2 linked regions of the Homo sapiens genome follow. The protein of the gene in region 2 purifies or fractionates together with the protein of the main gene of each other region. This does not show direct contact. Each region holds a gene or a part of one and is shown on either strand. Other genes may lie near its edges.

Region 1 (3,656 bases), on a different chromosome or scaffold from region 2:
AAAGTTTTGCTCGATAATCCACTTGACTGTTTTAAAAAAAAAGAAAAGACATATCAGTTCATATTTCAGTTCAATTTTACAAAAATCCTAATTTCAATAAAATTAATTTCTTCCTAAAACATGAACATATTCAAATTGATAGTCAAAGTAACTTTTAAAAGCCATGTAGTTTTAGATACTGCCAATATCTAATTCACACTTTTAACATATACAAGTTTACCTAAATGGTGAATATAACTTTTAACATATAGTAAATATTGGCTGGGTGCAGTAGGTCACGCCTGTAATCTCAGCACTTTGGGAGGCCTGAGGCGGCAGATGGCTTGAGTCCAGGAGTTCAAGACCAGCTTGGGCAATATGGTGAAACCCAGTCTTCACAAAAAATACAAAGAATCATCCAGGCGTGGTGGCACATGCCTGCACTCCCAGTTACTTAGGAGGCTTAGGTGAGAGGATCATCTGAGCCCAGGTGGTCAAAGATACAGTGAGCCACAATCACAACACTGCCCTCCAATCTAAGTGACAGAGTGAAACCATCTCAAAAATATATATATGCACACATATATACAGCAAATATCAATAAAATTAAAATAATCCTATTTTTTTCTTCAAGTGACTTCAGTAACATCTACACTCAGACCTAGAAAACATTTATTCAGGTCAAAAATATATTTACTGAATGCCTAATAAGTACCAACCACTATTTTAGGCGCTGGTGATACAAGAAAAAGAGAACTGCTCTCATGGAGTTTACATTCTAGAAAAAACAGACAAAAGACAAGCAGATGCACAAACAAGAAAATACTTTTGGTGTTTTTTTTGAGACAGGGTCTCGTTCTATTGCCCATGCTGCAGTGCAATGGTAGAATCATAGCTCCCTGCAGCATTGAACTCCTGGCTCAAGTGTTTCTCCCATCTTCAGCCTCCCAAGTAGCTAGGACTACAGACACATACCACCACACCCAGCATATACATATACATATATATATATGCATATATACACATACATATATATATATGCATATATACACATATACATATATATGCATATATACACATATACACATATATATGCATATATACACATATACATATATATGCATATATACACATATACACATATATATGCATATATACACATATACATATATATATACACACACACACACACACACACACATATATATATATATATATATATATATATATATATATATATATATATTTTTTTTTTTTTTTTTTCCCCTCCTGTAGAAATGGAGTCTTGCTTTGCTGCCCAGGCAATCCTCCCACCTTGGCCTCCCAAAGCACTGGGATTACAGGCGTGAGCTACTGCACCCAGCCAAAAATACTTTTACATTGTAATAACAGAGATTAAAGAAAACAAAGCAGAATGTGAGAATGTGTTTAAGAGGGCTGCTTTAAAAAACAGCCTTCTTAAATAGACAACTAAAGTATGATCAGAATGAAAAGGAAGCAATCATACGAAAATATGGAGACAGAAGAATCCGGGCAGAATGCACAGCTACTATACCATTGTCAAGGTAGGAGTAAGTTTGGTATGTTCAAGAATCAGAAAGAGGGTAACAGGGTTAAGGTATTATGTAGATGAGAATAAGGAAAATGGATAACACAAGATGAAGGCAGAAATATATACAGAGGCTAGATCATACAAGGCTTTATAGATCTTGATAAGGAGTTTGTATTTCTCATTCCAAGAATAAGAAGCTACTACTGGAAGATGTTCATCATCTGATTTTCATTCATAAAACTCTAGCTTCTGGGTAGAGAACAGACTGCTGAAAGACAAGAATAGAAACAGGGAGAGCAGGTAGGAGGATATTGAAATTGCCCAGGAAAAAGACTGTGGTATCTTGAAGCAGGGTATACTACCAGAGATGGAATAAGAGGCTGTAAGAGACAGAATCTATAATGTTCTAGAGGTAGATCACCCAGATTTGCTAGTGGATTGGCTGGGGGGAGAGGGAATGGAAAGAGAAGTAAGAGATGATTCCTGAGATTTTGGCTTCAGCAACAGAAATCACAACATTTTTGGAACATCATGTCACTCAATCACAACTTTTTTTTTTTTTTTGAGGCGGAGTCTCGCTCTGTCACCCAGAGTTGGAGTACAGAGGCACGATCTCAGCTCACTGCAACCTCCATCTCTCAGGTTCAAGCAATTCTCCTGTCTCAGCCTCCCGAGTAGCTGGGACTACAGGCACATGCCACCACACCCCAGCTAAGTTTTGTATTTTTAGTAGAGACGGGGTTCCACCATGTTCGTCAGGCTGGTCTCGAACTCCTGACTTCAGGTGATCCACCACCTCGGCCTCCCAAAGTGCTGGGATTACAGGCATGAGCCACCACGCCCGGCCAATTATGACTTATCTAATGATGCAAGATGGGTTGATACACATCCAGCACCACTATTCAGAAGACACTGATGGAATCTAACAGTTTTTATAGTGCCACTTTTACATTTGGTCTCTTTATATTACCAACTCAGTACAACTAGAATGATCCTAAAATTTTACAGCTCTCTGGATTGTTTTGACTGTCCTAATTTGAAAAAATTAGTATGAACAAAAACAAAGGGATTTTTATAAAAATATGCAGAAAAACCCCGACATTTTAAAATCACATTGCCACATTAGTTTTTCTATATATTTTACTTACCATAAAGGATTCAAAACTGCACGGCAAGTGGTCCTACTACACAGAACAGGTTCATATTGAATAGGTGGTAAGTCAGGTCTCTCTTTCAGTGGTGTAAACAGGGCTGCCACAGGAACAACCATTCTTGTAGCTTCCAGTCGACTTGATGGCCAAACATTCCAACTAAATCGGACTCCATCTCGTTCTTCATTTTGTTGAATGAATTCCAAATAGGTTGTCATTGTGGAGTTTGATTCTTATTTCTGTATCAAAATTTTAAAATATTTTAAAATCCAGGATCCTCTTAAGAACGTTCAAAATATGAATGTTCTCCCCTCATTCAGCAATATTAACACCTTAGAAATCAGGACCAGCTGGGCCCCGTGGCTCACGCCGGTAATCCCAGCACTTTGGGAGGCCGAGACAGGCGGATCACCTGAGGTCGGGAGTTCGAGACCAGCCTGACCAACACGAAGAAACCCCGTCTCTACTAAAAATACAAAATTAGCCAGGCATGGTGGCGTATGCCTGTAATCCCAGCTACTCAGGAGGCTGAGGCAGGAGAATCTCTTGAACCCTGGAGGCAAAGTTTGTGGTGAGCCGAGATCATTCCGTTGCACTCCAGCCTGGGCAACAAGAGCAAAACTCCATCTCAAAAAAAAAAAAAATCAGGACCAAATGAAAATATTTATCTCAGAAAAAAATTAGCAAGCAACTCATAACAAAATAATTAATGGCTCTACCCAATGTTCACAAGGCCCAATAAGAGGTATTTAACACTTTTTTATTCACTCTAAAAGATGATGGCAAAAAATAGTGTCTTATTTCTTTAAGGATATATAGGAAAGAAATGCAAAAATAGGGGGAAAACCTAGATCCTATGTTTTCCATATCAGTTTTGAAAATTATAAGAATTCATATAAACAGATTTCAAAATTATAAAGTTCTAAAACTCACATGGTTTCTATCTGAAAAATAACAAGTTTCCACTAAACTTT
Region 2 (3,656 bases):
TGAATCAGAAAACTACTAGATGATTTATGCCAAAACTACACTCGACAATATATTACACAAGAAAAAAAAAAAAGCTCAGAACTGAGTTCTAGTTCTGGCTACACTGTGGAATTGTGTGAGTTACAGCAACTCAATTTTCTCATGTCAACAACCGGAAAAACATTACCTTGCAGGGGCATAAGAATCAGAAGAAAAATATTAAATTTTATAAACTATTGAGCACTGTGCAATCCCAAGATCATTGTGAGTGCTAAGATTATGAGAATAGATTTGAAAAACATCCATTAAAATTAGCCTAGCACAATTCCTGGCACTCAGTAAGATCAATATATATTTACTGAATGAAAAGTTATTTTACTTTAAAATCATTGCAAACACAATGACAGAATGGATCAAAACAAATTTTGAGGTATTAAGAGCCTTCTATGAAAAAGTCTAAACCAATTTTAAGCCTATTTATTTCCACAATTCCACAATGAATCAGCTCCAAATATTTCAAAACTACAAAGCCTTGCAAAGCACAATCAAATTTCTTTGTAAAAGAAATTTCATCAGCAATATACCACTAAAAGAGATAAAGTACACTAAATACCAAATGGGAGAGGAATAAATTAGAAAATCATCTGAGACCAAAAAAAAAAAAAAGTTTGAAAAATGTTTGATGTTAGACTACTGGAAACACTACAGAAACAAAAGAATAAAAGGAGATTTAAAAACGTACAACCGTGACAGGGCCGGTGGCTCACGCCTGTAATCCTAGCACTGTGGGAGGCTGAGGCGGGCAGATCACTTGAGGTCAGGAGTTTGAGACCCGTCTGACCAACATGATGAAACCCCGCCTCTACTAAAAAGACAAAAATTAGCCGGGCATGGTGTACATCTGTAGTCCCAGCTACTCTGGGACTCTGGGGCTGTAGTCCCAGCTACTCTGGGGGCTGAGGCGGAAGAATGGCTTGGGCCTGGAAGGCGGAGATTGCAGTGAGCCGAGATTCCGCCACCGCACTCCAGCCTGAGTGACAGGGCGAGACTCAGTCTCAAAAAAATAAAAATAAAAATAAAAAAAATTAAAACAGGCAACCAAGACGAGAACTAGTATTTGGTTTAGAAGCAAGATAATCCTCTACATAACCTATGTCTACGTAAGTTTACAAACCAAATTAAAAATCCACCAGTGTTTCTCTCAGTACCTTTCTTACCGGACAATTAACAAACAAAACCTAGGCAGGTGGATCCTTTGAGTCTAGGAGTTCAAGACCAGCCTAGGCAACATGGCGAAGCCCCATCTCTACAAAAAATACAAAAATTAGCCAGGCGTGGTGGCACGTGCCTGTAGTCTCAGCTACTAGGGAGGCTGAGGTGGGAGGATCAACTGAGCCCCAGTGGTTGAGGCTGCAGTGAGTTGTAATCACACACCTCCATTCCAGCCTGGGAGACAAAGCGAGCCTTTCTCAAAAAACAAACAAAACACCATCTAACATGAATGTTGGCATTAGTACAGTAAAAAGTTGTAACTAAGGCACTCTAAGTCTCTCTACATACAAATATACCGGTGGAAACGGAAAAAGAAAAAATTCACACCACCTATTGCATAGCATTTGGAAATGATTATTAACTTAGTTCCCACGAATGCCTTTACGAAAGCCAGAAATAGGAAAGGAAGGAGTATAACTGGAAACAAGAACAGGTGTGAAGCTGAGGTGGAAACAAATTAAGAACTTAGGCAAATATTCAAGTTTCTTAAAATCTTCAAAGAGCACTAAAAGAACTCAGACTTCAAATAGAATTACCCTACCCAATGAATTAGTTACAATGACAGCACAGGTCTTATTTTAAATAATGGCAAAATAACTTTTTTGAAGTAAGCTATTACTTATTTTTTAGCTCAACATTTATGTGCCAAATTAAGGAACACTAAATTTACAACCTAAACCAAAGATCAAGCAATCACTTTCATAATAGTCACTTATTTTAGGCCAGGCGCAGTGGCTTACGCCTGTAATCCCAGCACTTTGGGAGGCCAAGGTGGGCAGATCATGAGGTCAGGAGATCGAGACCATCCTGGCTAACACGGTGAAACCCTGTCTCCACTAAAAATACAAAAAAAAAAAATTAGCCGGGCATGGTGGCACACGCCTGTCGTCCCAGTTACTCGGGAGGCTGAGGCAGGAGAATGCTGTGAACCCAGGAAGCAGAGCCTGCAGTGAGCCGAGATCGCGCCACTGCACTCCAGTCTGGGCGACAGAGTGAGACTCTGTCTCAAAAAAATAAAAATAAAAATAAAAGTCACTTATTTTATTCCACTAAAGTAAAAATGAAGTAAATTAATAATCCACAAGTTCACATAAATGCAAACTGGTCAAAGTTAATACTTGCACAAAGGTCTACTTTTTTCTATTTCCTGGTTTACTACTAAAATTAGCCACAACTTAAGTACAAAGGAGCGTTGCTATAAAACCATCTTTCAGAGTCCATGTTGTACGACATTATATACGAGACTGCTTTATGACTAGACTTCTTCAGCAATGTACTGTGGGTAACCAAACACCCTTGGCTAGGATCCTCTTTTATGACAAATTCCAAATTCAAAATCCAAATATTAAAAGCAATCTTCAGCACAGTTGATTGGCTTTTCAAGGCCCTTTTAATCTCAAAATACCAAGCTAAACTGGCATAAAGTTCATCTGTATGTGTATATTTCCACTTGTTTAAACACAACAATATATATGCAATGTGGAATCCTGGACTGGATCCCAGAAGAGAAAATGGACATTAGTGGAAAAGCTGGTGAAACGCAAACAAAGTCTGGTTAGTAATGTCATACCAATGTTCATGTCTTAATTTGGACAAATGTATCATCATTATCCTAACATTAGGGGAAGCTGGATGAAGGGTATGAGATTACTCAGTTCTGTATTTCCAACTTTTCTATAAATTTAAAATTATTCCAAAATACAATTATTTAAAAACACAGCTATAACCTCTCATAATTCCCAGTCATTTGAGTAATAAAAGATTATCTAAGCCCATGAACTCATGTGAATTTCCTTTTCTAAGATGTGCTGAAAAGATGTCTTAAGTTCATATTTGCACTGGAAAAATAAATTTTTAGCAAATTTTCTATTTGCTAAGGCAAATACACACAAGCCAGTCTTACCAATTTTACTCAAAGTGAAAAATCTTGGGTGCAGGTACCAGACATCATAAATATATGGTTTGGGTTTTTTTTTTTTTTTTTTTTTTTTTAGGCAAAACTATTTTCATTTTACTATGATTGGCAAATTATGATGTATTTGATTGATAAATCTCAGATTTATCAGATTGATTCTAGTTCGTCTTCATGTGGCAGAATATGTGTTGTCAGGAGTGATTTGGTAATTCAGAAAAGCAGCTGAAGAAGCATGGAAACTTCCCTACAAGTATATGGCCACAGCTGGCTAAGGTTGGAGACAGTATTCTATCCTTGGGCCTCAGACTCACATATGTATGTACATACACATATTATTCACCCATATTTCCTTCCTTCTCCCCTCCCCCATCTGTAAACTGATATCTAAACTTTACAAATTACAGTTACAAGAAAAGTTTTGTTCCATTTGAAATACAAAAAAGATCAGGAGAAGCAATCTGCTTTTTAATTTTACTTATGCAGTAGTTTT

What was found. Proteins that work in one complex are often made in the same cells at the same time.
Region 1: the proteins of SP3 (region 2) and SEC23A fractionate together in Homo sapiens (co-fractionation; one large-scale study listed by BioGRID). This does not show direct contact.

Annotation. Positions count from the first base shown.
Region 1 is NC_000014.9:39,093,219-39,096,874, forward strand, and holds part of SEC23A (protein transport protein Sec23A), read right to left. Parts: intron 2,922-3,656; 5' UTR 2,901-2,921; coding exon 2,680-2,900; intron 27-2,679; coding exon 1-26.
Region 2 is NC_000002.12:173,958,718-173,962,373, forward strand, and holds part of SP3 (transcription factor Sp3), read right to left. Parts: intron 1-3,656. UniProt on the Homo sapiens protein: Transcriptional factor that can act as an activator or repressor depending on isoform and/or post-translational modifications. Binds to GT and GC boxes promoter elements. Competes with SP1 for the GC-box promoters.